Linked DNA regions of Homo sapiens: region 1 is linked to region 2. The links come from fine-mapping of genetic effects on gene expression. A gene starts in region 2. The other region holds a variant in brackets. All regions are shown on one strand. Distances are between the middles of the regions.

Region 1 (5,370 bases), 34 kb after region 2:
GGAGCCCATATGCTTCCAGGAGGCTCACCCAGCACATCCACACGGCCCTCGGTCACGCGTTCCCGGGCAGCGGCCAGGGAGCTTGAGTTCCTTACATCCAGCTGCAACCTCTCCAGGGATCCCTGAGGGCATGCCAGGGCCCGGGCCGCCTCCCACAGCCGGCCCTGTGTTTTCAGGTCCCTCAACGTGGCATACACTGGAGGTTTTGGGAGAGGAGGAAGATCTGACTTCTCTTCTGGCCTCCAAGGGCTTTTCCCTTCTCTCCCTCCCTGTCCCTACCTATCTATACCTTTGAAGCTCTGGGATGGGTCCAAAGCCAGATGTATTGCCAAGTGCAGGCCAATACCTGAGGAACAGCCGGTGATGAGCACCACGGTGCAGGCCATGGTGAGACTGTGGGGAGAGGCTGGGGCTCTGGGCTGGATATCACCTGCTTCGCCCCGCCCCGCCTGCGGGCCCCCACCCCTTGTTGTGTCTCCCACGCAATCTCAAGGATAAGCCCTCCTGCGGGTCCCTGGCCCGCTCTCCCCACCCTGTTCTGAGCCAAAACAGACATGAGCCCACTGCTTGGAACAACAAACTGTCCTCGTTTCTGGTCAGAGGGAGGGGAGGCTTTACAAGCAGATGTGGGTTCCCACGTGGGCACAGAGTGGCCCCCTGGGCAGATTCCCCTGGGTATGCCTCTGTGCCACAGGAGCGATTATAGTGACCGCAGTTTGCTGCAGAGGCTGTGAAAGTAAAGGTGTTGGGAGGTGGGAGATGATTGTATATGTGTTGGTTTCGTCCAGGGTTCCTAGCTCATAACTCACATGACCATGGTTACAGTCTTTCGTTGTCATGTTGGGGCGCCTCAGGCCTCAAAAAACAGCCTTTCCTCTCTTTGACCTTCTCCTGTCCTCTTTTCAGCTGCCCAAGGCAGGATTCTAATCTGATTGTGGGTTGTAGGATCCTCATTCCAGAGTGGGTCCTTGCCCCATACCCTGGAGAAAGGAATGCTGCACAAAGGCCCAAAGAATCTGGACTGGCCTTGCTGGGCTTAGATCAGACCCTTTTTGCCCAATCACATTATCACAGTTGTCCATGCTTCAGTCATGGACAGCCAATGGAGTTCTCCATAAAAGGCCCAAAGGACAGGGTTCGGGAAGCTTCTGAGAGCTGAACGTGTGGAGGCTGACAGAAGGTGAAGAACTCATCCATGTGCCTGGAGGGTGATGTAACCCCAACTCTATGGAGATAGAAGCTCCTGCTCTGGGCCCTTCCAGACCGCCCTGTCTGTATCTCTTCATATGGCTGTTTATTTCTATCCTTTAAAATATCCTTTGAGGTTGGGCACGGTGGCTGATGCCTGTAATCCCAGCACTTTGGGAGGCCAAGGCAAGGGGATTGCTGGAGCTCAGGAGTTCAAGACCAGCCAGGGCAACAGAATGAGACCCCGTCTTTGCAAAAACTACAAAAAAATTAGCTGGGTGTGGTGGTGTATGCTTAGAGTCCCAGCCACTTGCGGGGTGGGGCGCTGAGGCGTGGGGTTTGGGGGGATGGAGGCTGTAGTGAGCCGAGATCATGCCACTGCACTCCAGCCTGGGTGACGGAGCCAGATCCTGCCACTGCAGTCATTCTGGATGACAGAGTGAGACCCTGTCTCAAAAAAGAAAGAAAAAAATTTTTTTCCTCTGTAATAAAGCAATAAACATAATAAGGGTTTCCCTGTGTTTCGTGGGTCACTGTCGCAAATGAGTTGACTCCAAAGAGGGGAAGGGGGTCATGGGAACTCCAACTTGAAGCCAGTTAGTCAGAAGTTCCAGGGATCAGGACTTGTAACCGTTGGGAAGGAGGGGGTGGTCTCATGGATCTGCACCCTAACCCTGTGGGATCTGATGCTGTCTCTGGTTGATTACATTGGAACTGAATTGGAGGACACCCAGCTGATGTCTGCTGCTTGGTGTGTGTGGGGAAAATCCTCCAAATATTTGGTCACAGAAGTCTTCTGTGTTGGTGACTGTTGCTGTGGCATGCCAGCAAAGGACAAACATGGTTTGAAAAGAGGTTTTCCTGCAACAGAAGGGCATTCTACGTTCAAAGGTCAGGGTAACATTAGTGTTAAAAAGAGAGACGTGGCCGGGCACGGTGGCTCACTCCTGTAATCCCAGCACTTTGGAAGGCCGAGGCAGGTGGATCACTTGAGTTCAGGAGTTAAAGACCAGCCTGGCCAACATGGTGAAACCTTATCTCTATGAAAAATACAAAAATTAGCC[G/A]GGCGTGATGGCACAGGCCCGTAGTCCTAACTCCCTGGTAGACTGAGGCAGGAGAATTGCTTGAACCCGGGAGGCAGAGGTTGCAGTAAACCAATATGGTGCCACTAAACTCCAACCTGGGCGACAGAGCAAGACTCCATCTTGGAAAAAAAAAAATTAGCCTGGCGTGGTGGTGCATGCCTATAGTCCCAGCTACCGGGGAGGCTGAGGCACAAGAATTGCTTGAACCCAGGAGGCGGAGGTTGCAGTGAGCCGAGACTGTGCCATTGTACTCAAGCCTGGGCAACAGACCAAGGCTCCGTCACAAACAAACAAACAAACAAAAACAGGGACGTGAGGCAAGGGATGGGAGAACAGGTCCCACCCCAGGGCCATGCTATAGCCCTGAGTCCTCCCAAGCGTGGCAGCAGTGACCTTCTCATTTTGACAGACCCAGGGGACTCATCAGTTTAAGTGGAAAGAAAACAGTACTTTAATCCCACACTTTGGGTGGTGGTGGAGGGCAGGTCATTTCCCTCCAATCCCCCCAGGTCAGACCCCACCAGCAGGCCGTGGGGCCTCCTCCCAGGCCTGGGTTATCCTGTGATGTCTGTCCAGCTCTGGGCCCTGGAATCTGCCCTGGAATTAGCGGAAAACAAGGCCCAGTGGTGGCGAATCTATCACCAAGAGCCGGCCACCCAGCGGGGGTAATATTTGAGGAAGATCTTCTTGGCCAGGTCCACAGTGTCTCCTCGCGGCTGGCTGGGGTACCTCTGCTTGCTGAGAACGAAGGCCTGCTCCAGTTGGAAGACATTTTTGTCAAACTGGTGCTGTTGGAAAGGGATGCCCTGGGCCACACTGTCAACCAGCGCCTCCAGGAAAAGCCGCCAGCGAGGGGTGTAGTAGTTGGCCACCAACCCCGCCAGCTGCTTGTTGGCATAGTCCAGGATGTTGCCTTCTGGCCCCCACAAGGTCAGCTGGTAGCGGCTGTTCTGCTCGTAGAAATCGGCCTCGGCCTCACTGACTGCCGCTGCTCGGGCCTGCTCTAGCCAGCTGCCCAGCAAGAAGCGGCTGTCACTAGCCAGCACCTCGTCCAGTGCCGGCAGCAGCTCATAGGCCAGGACGCCTCCAGCCCTCAACAGGGAGGCCAGCTCCTTGCTCAGGTAGGCGCTTCTTGCCTCCTCATAGTACAAGCTGACCAGCTCCTGCACTGCCTGCCGAGTGAGGTCCAGCAGGTCGTAGCGGAAGGCGGGGCTGGTGGCCAGGGAGGGAGCAGATGTGAGCAGCAGCCGCCAGGCCTCAAACACATCAGATCGGTTGTACCAGATGCTGGTATTCATCTGTAGGGACGGCCGCCTGACCAGCGGGCTACGATTGTGGCCCCTGCAGGCCTCCCCGGAGCAGTTGTACACACTCCGGAGCAGTAGCCTCCACGCTGCCCCTGCGTCCGGGTGGGAGACCCCATACCGCCGGGCGGCAAAGCTGGTCACCCAGGCTGCCAAATCTGGCACTGGGTCCTTTCGCCAGCCCAGCTCAGCCATGAGGGAATAGACCACTTCGTTCTGGCTGATGCCCTCGGGGGCCATGCCCGTGCCTACCATGGTGGAGTTGGGGAAGAGGCGGGCAGCTTCTGGGCCTCCGTTCACAGCCTCTAGGGCTCCAAAAAGACCATGGTTTCCCCCAAAGTTGTGCAGCATGCACCAGATGAAGGGCTGGCCCTGGAAGGAGGCAGTGCGGGTATACACAGGCTGGCTCTCAGCAAACAGGTCCAGAACCAGGAGGCGGCCACGGGGCACAGCTCCCAGCACAGCCCTGATCTGGGCGGGCCCCCAGAACTGCGGCTGGTGCTGGAAGAGCCAGCCTTGGAGCAGCCACACAGCCTCAGTATCCACTGTGGACAGGAGGTAGGGGGAACAGAGAAGAGGAGTGATGAAACAGAGGGCCCAGGGAATGTTCACCCCACTCTACAGACGACTGTCTATCCCAGGTCATGGCTTCCCATGACCCCCACCAGCGGGACGCTCTGTGGCACATACGCGTCCCTCTGAAAACTCCAGGACAGGGTTCAGCAGCTTGGGTGAACATGAGAGTTACCCAGAGGGCTCCTTAAAACATGGAGGTTTCTGAATGGGCGTGGTGGCCCACACCTATAATCCCAGTACTCTGAGGGGCTGAAGCAGGTGGATCACTTGAGCCCAGGAGTTCCAGACCAGCCTGGCCAATGTGGGGAAACCCTGTCTATACTAAAAATACAAAAATTAGCCTAGCGTAATGGCAGGTGCCTGTAATCCCGGCTACTCGGGAGGTAGAGGCACAAGAATCACTTGAACCCATGAGGCAGAAGTTGCAGTGAGCTGAGATTGTGCCACTGCACTCCAGTCTGGGCGACAGAGTAAGATTCTGTCTCAAAAACAAAATCAAGGCCAGTCGCAGTGGATCACGCCTGTAATACCAGTACTTTGGGAGGCTGAGGTGGGCAGTTCACCTGAGGTCAGGAGTTTGAGACCAGTCTGGCCACCATGGTGAAACCTGTTTCTACTAAAAATACAAAAATTGGCCAGGCAAGGTGGCTCACACCTGTAATCCCAGCACTTTGGGAGGCTGAAGTGGGCGAATCATTTGAGGTCAGGAGTTTGAAACCAGCTTGACCTACATAGCGAAACCCCGTCTCTACTAAAAATACAAAAATTAGCCGAGTGTGGTTGGGGGGCGCCTGTAATCCCAGCTACTCAGGAGGCTGAGGCAGGAGAATCGCTTGAACTCAGGAAGCAGAGGTTGCAGTGAACTGAGATCGTGCCACTGCACTCCAGCCTGGGTGACAGAGCGAGACTCTATCTCAAAACAAACAAAAATTGCCGGGCGTGGTGGCGGGTGCCTATAGTCCCAGCTACTCGGGAGGCTGAGGCAGGAGAATCGCTTGAACCTAGGAGACGAAGGTTGCAGTGAGATGAGATTGTGCCACTGTGCTCCAGCCTCAGCAACAGAGTGAAATCTGTCTCAAAAAAAAAAAAAATGTAGCTTCTCCTTCAGGTCTTGGGTAGGGCCTGAGAATTTGCCATCTCACAGCTCGGGCTGCTGCTGCTGCTGCTGCTGGTTTTGGGTCACACTTGGAGCAGTACTGCTCAAGAAAGGCTGAGCT
Region 2 (5,370 bases):
AAGCGATTCTCCTACCTCAGCCTCCTCAGTAGCTGAGATTACAGGCATGCACCACCATGCCCGGCTAATTTTTTTGTGTTTTTAGTAGAGATGGGGTTTCACCGTGCTGGCCAGGCTGGTCTAGAACTCCTGACTGCAAATGATCAGCCCGCCTCAGCCACCCAAAGTGTTGGGATTACAGGTGTGAGCCACTGTGCCCAGCGTGATTTTTTTTTTTTTTTAAAGCAAACTTGTCCTTTGGTTTTGCAGAACAGGCCTGCTCCCTCTCATCTAGCCCATCATTTCTTGGGGCCTGAACCCCAGTGGTCCAAAGTATTGCTTGTGAAATTTAAAAAATGTGAATATGATGTGGGGATGGGCCTCTTCTACATTACCTTGGCCCAGGGGGATCAGCTGGCTGGGAGGATTAGTGAGCACCTCTGTATTTTGAGGTCTGAGTCTTCTGGAGCTGTGTAGTTAATCTTCGGTTTCTGATAACCCCTGGGTCCATCTGGCCATCAGCCTCAGCAGTGAGCAAAGCAATACCATACTCATTTCTATGTTCCTGTTCCTTCCTCTGCTCCTCCTTTGGAGAAGCAATAATTCATGGGGGATGATACAGTAGCACTTTACAAATGGCTCCATGTCATTCATCCCAGGGGCCATAATCTCTTGCACCACCTATTCTTACTTCCTGTTCAGCTCCTTTACAGCTTTTATTTTCAACTGCTTCCCAACTTGGTGGGGCCTCCTTTAAGGATGAGCCAATAGTAAGAATGTGGCTGTAATCAGCAGAGACCCCTCTGAGGGGTATCTGTTCTGCAGCCCCTAGTGAAATCATGTGATGTGAGACAGAAACCTAAACATGGTACTTGATTCTAAACCTGTGCCAGTCTATAGCCTCTGCCTCCCCAAGCAGAGCTCAAGCCAAACGCTTCTGTCCTCTTTCCTTCTGCATTAACCCTTTGCTGATCCTCAGGGGCCACTCCCCCAACACCCCTGTACTTGGGTGAGGGATGTTGGACAGAGCCTGTTTTCATGTACTGCAGGTGGGGGTGTGCTGACATGTTTGCTCTTGGTTGATGGAGAAGGTACAGAGGCCAGGGAGTGAAAATGGTTGACAGAAGAGGGAAGAGTTAGGTGTCTCATAGTCACTCATAGTGGGGTGGTCAGGGGTAATGGCATCTCCCCACTTTAGGCTTCTCAAACAGACTTTTGACACCTCTCAAGTTCAGAGCTCTGATGTGGAAAGACAGGAGGTGTGGGGAAGGAGGGGGATTTCGTGTGTTTGCATGAGTGTGCGCTTCAGGCCTTGGGAGTTGGCAAGAGGGAGGGAAGGAAGGAGAGCAAAATCTTCGGAAGGTGTTTCTTGTACCTGAGGGATCCTGCCCTGAATCTCCATAGTCTCCACTGTGAACTGAGGAGGGGAGGGGTGTGCTGGGGAATAAATCTTGTATGAGAACAATCTTTAAGAGACTGATGCTGAATGGTGTCCTACCCTTGATAGGTCTTCTCTTGTAAATCTGAGTTCTGATTAATTTGAAGTGATAGCCTTAAAAGAGGAAGCCCAGGTATGAGGGACCCACCAGCCCACCCCTATTTTTACTTCGTGATGGCCAGAACATCACCATAGTATGAGGCTACTTTCCTTCTTGTGAGAGCCCCACCATCAGTATAACTGGCACTCTTGGCTAGTATTTAGCCTGTATTTCCTTCATTTCTAATTTCTTTTTTTTTCCTGAGACGGAGTCTTGGTCTGTCGCCCAGGCTGGAGTGCAGTGGTGCGATCTCTCACTGCAAGCTCCGCCTCCCGGGTTCACGCCATTCTCCTGCCTCAGCCTCCTGAGTAGCTTGGACTACAGGCGCCCACCAGCACGCCTGGCTAATTTTTTGTATTTTTAGTAGAGATGGGGTTTCACAGTGTTAGCCAGGATGGTCTCGATCTCCTGACCTCGTGATCCGCCCGCCCTGGCCTCCCAAAGTGCTGGGATTGCAGGCGTGAGCCACCGCGCTCGGCCCTTTCATTTCTAATTCTTAATATTGTCTCCTAAACGTGCAGAGACAAGCACACGTTTTAAAGGCTAAGGAGGTTGTAGGTAGCAGAAGGCTTTAAAAAGTAGCACCTTACTCCTTCACTGGATGGTCTGAGCTGCAGGGACAGCTGCTCTTTGGCCTTCAGCTCACCTCAGAAACTAGAAATATTTATTTCAGGCTCTGTCCCATTGGCCACTGTGGTCAGGGGTGGAAAGCACCTGCCAGGTGTTGCCCTGAGATTGTCTGGGCTAACAAACTTTTCCACAAGCTTTGTGGTTGAACAGTAGCCCCCTCCTAACCCTATCGTTCCTTGGCGTCCAAACTACAGTAGGTGTCGAGTGCCCCCTGGGTGCGAAGCTCGGTATTAGGCAAATAAGGGTGGTTGCTCTCCAAGGCGCTTAGCTGTCCCCCCTTCCCACTTTTTTTTTTTTTGTTCGAGACTGCGTCTCGCTCTGTCGCCAGGATGGGGTGCAGTGGCGCGCTCATAGTGGCTCACTGCAGCCTCGATGTCCGGGGCTCTGGTGACCCTCCCACCTCAGCCTCCAGAGTAGCTGGGACCACAGAAGCGCGCCACCACTCTTAATTTTTTGTACTTTATTTGCAGAGATGGGGTTTCATATTGCCCAGACTGGTTTCGAATTCCTGGGCTCAAACGATCCGCCCGCCTCAGCCTCCCAAAGTGATAGAATTGCAGGGGTGACATGCCACTGCGCCCGACCAAGGCGCTTAGCTTTCTATTAAGTTTTCACAACCACTTTCCTACCACTATCTACTGTTCCTATTTTACAAATGACAAAACTAACCGACAAAAGAGCACTGGACCGTGGGACCAGAGCACGTCCCTGTGGGGTAACCTTGAGCTGGTCGCTTGCCCAGGGCGGCAGCGGATGTCTGAAGCGTCTTCCAATCCCAACATTAGACTTAATTCAAGGTCACCAGTGCTCAGCTGCGGCTGGAACTGGGTCTCGAAACTTGAAGGCCTTCTCTGCTACAGCCTTCGTTCCCGGGAGCAGAAAGAGGAAGTTTCTTAGCCGTGGGCACGCCGGCGCCTTCGCAGAGGCCCATGGCTTGAGGTCCGGCCCGAATGCGCAAGTTCCGACCTGAAATGAACTATGGAGTCCGGGAGGGGTCGCTTTGCTCCTCCGGAAGGCTTCCCCTTCAGCCAATCACCGTTCGAGGCCCGCCCCCGTCGCCGGAAGGAGCCGTCGCCCCGAGCAACTACAACGTCCGGCTTTCTGAGTTGGGTGGCGGGAAAGGCGATGAGTAAAGGCCGGGCAGAAGCTGCGGCGGGAGGTAACGGCGCCGTGGGCGCGGGGAAGACCCGGGAGGGCAGTGGGTGAGGAGGTCGGTTGAGTGGCCCCCTCCCCTGCCTTTCTCTCCGTAGCCGCCGGGATCCTCCTGAGGTACCTGCAGGAGCAGAACCGGCCCTACAGCTCCCAGGATGTGTTCGGGAACCTACAGCGGGAACACGGACTGGGCAAGGCGGTGAGGACCTTCTCCCGGGATTCCCTCTCCGTCGGACTCCCTGGATTCAGGCTGGGGTCGTGCCCTTTGGAGCCTTGGGCGTTTTCCACATCACTGGCTGGATTTCCCCAGACCCAGGCTCAGACTCCTCTGATTGCTCCTTCTCTCTCCTCTGCCAGGTGGTGGTGAAGACGCTGGAGCAGCTGGCGCAACAAGGCAAGATCAAAGAGAAGATGTACGGCAAGCAGAAGATCTATTTTGCGGATCAGGTGAGGAGAACTTGCGCCGATTGTCACCCATGAGAGCCCGACAACGGGTGAATCTACTCCTGGTGTGAACTCTTTGGGGACAAGGCCCCCCATGGAAAACTCACCTGTCTTAGGCCACCATCCTTAAATCAAGGTGTGTACTCCTCTTGTTAGGATCCCAACTTCACGAGGTTTCCAGATTTACAATATGATGGATGACAGAAGATTCTGTATTGTTGCTACCAAGATCCATTTCCGCTCCAAAGCTCTTATTCCTTATCATCTACATTAGCAACACCCTCTGCCAAATGATGTTCCTCCTGCCTCCATCCGATTCTCTAAACACACATATCAAATTTATATTCTCCAGCCCAGACCTCCAGCTGGAATCTGTCAGGCATTAATATCAGAGTCAAAATTGCCACAGTAGAATGCCTCATCTTCCCCCCACCCCGGACTGGTTTCTTTCTAACATTCTCCTCCCCTAATGGAATTACTCTTCACCCAAACCAGAAATTGGGAGCAATTCTTGACTTCCTTTACTAGTCAACCATCAAGTCCAGCTGATTTTTCCGTTTTTATTTATTTTTTTAATTTTTATAGAGATGGGTCTTACTGTGCTGCCCAGGTTGGTCCCAACTCCTGGGCTCAAGTGATCCTCCTGTCTTGGCCTCCCAAAGTGCTGGGAGGACAGGCGTGAACCACAGAGCCTGGCTAATTTTTCCATTCTTGAATCCACTCTCCTTTCCATCTGCCATGGTTGCTCTAGTTCACGCCCTCTTTATTTGTTGCAGTATCCTCCTAACAGATCTTGGCTCTTCAAACATATCTTAAACTCTTAAACATTGCAGTCAGAATGATCTGTCTAAATAGATCTGGTCATGCACCTTCCCTATTTAAAACTCTTCAATGGCTCTCTAGTGCTGCAAAAAACATGTAAAAGGCACCGGAAGACGCCCCAGCCAGCCTCTGGCCTCACCAATCCTCATTATTTTTCTATCCACGAACACTAGATAATTCTGGTGTGTTTTACTGCTCTGTCCTTTGCATGTTGTCTTCCCTGTACCTGCTTCTCTTCCTGGCCAGCTCTTTCTTTCCTTGAGGATTTCACTTAGACATCACCTTTTCCAGAAATCTTCCTTGAATGCTCCGAGCTAATTGTTTCTTTTTCAGGCCCTTATCTCTTTTTGTTATTGTTGTTGTTGTTGTTGTTGAGACGGAGTCTCGCTCTGTCACCCAGGCTGGAGTGCAGTGGCACAATCTCGGCTCACTATAAGCTCCACCTCCTGGGTTCACGCCATTCCCCCGCCTCAGCCTCCCAGAGTAGCTGGGACTACAGGCACCCGCCACGAAGCCTAATTTTTTTTTTTTTTTTTTTTTGGTATTTTTAGTAGAGATGGGGTTTCATCGTGTTAGCCAGGATGGTCTTGATCTCCTGACCTCGTGATCCACCCGCCTCGGCCTCCCAAAGTGCTGGGATTACAGGCATGAGCCACTGTGCCCAGCCTGGCCCTTACCTCTTTTGAGGCATGCTGTATTACAATTTTTACTTGTCTCCTTTATTCAACTGAAGTTCCTCTAGGGCAGACCCCATTTCTCAATTCATTTTTATCTGATCAGCACCTCCGCAGTATCTAACATCCAG

What was found. PIP is the estimated chance that this variant, and not a neighbour inherited with it, causes the effect. A credible set is the group of variants that fine-mapping cannot tell apart.
Region 1: its variant is the best candidate, but not a certain one, in a credible set for the expression of PSMC3IP in thyroid (GTEx, PIP 0.57).

Annotation. Positions count from the first base shown.
Region 1 is chr17:42,541,780-42,547,149 of GRCh38, reverse strand. NAGLU (N-acetyl-alpha-glucosaminidase) reads right to left here. Exons shown (of 6, transcript NM_000263.4): 6 at 2,701-4,122. The coding sequence ends at 2,912. It also overlaps the pseudogene HSD17B1P1. Among named protein-coding and RNA genes, the nearest start is that of NAGLU, 8.2 kb to the right of the region's middle. The variant G/A (reference allele first, on the strand shown) is at 2,253.
Region 2 is chr17:42,575,589-42,580,958 of GRCh38, reverse strand. PSMC3IP (PSMC3 interacting protein) reads left to right here and starts at 3,230. Exons shown (of 8, transcript NM_016556.4): 1 at 3,230-3,306; 2 at 3,398-3,498; 3 at 3,657-3,746. The coding sequence starts at 3,273. It overlaps RETREG3 (reticulophagy regulator family member 3), which reads left to right. Exons shown (of 9, transcript NM_178126.4): 9 at 1-1,444. RefSeq lists an enhancer at 2,879-2,968 and a silencer at 3,269-3,318.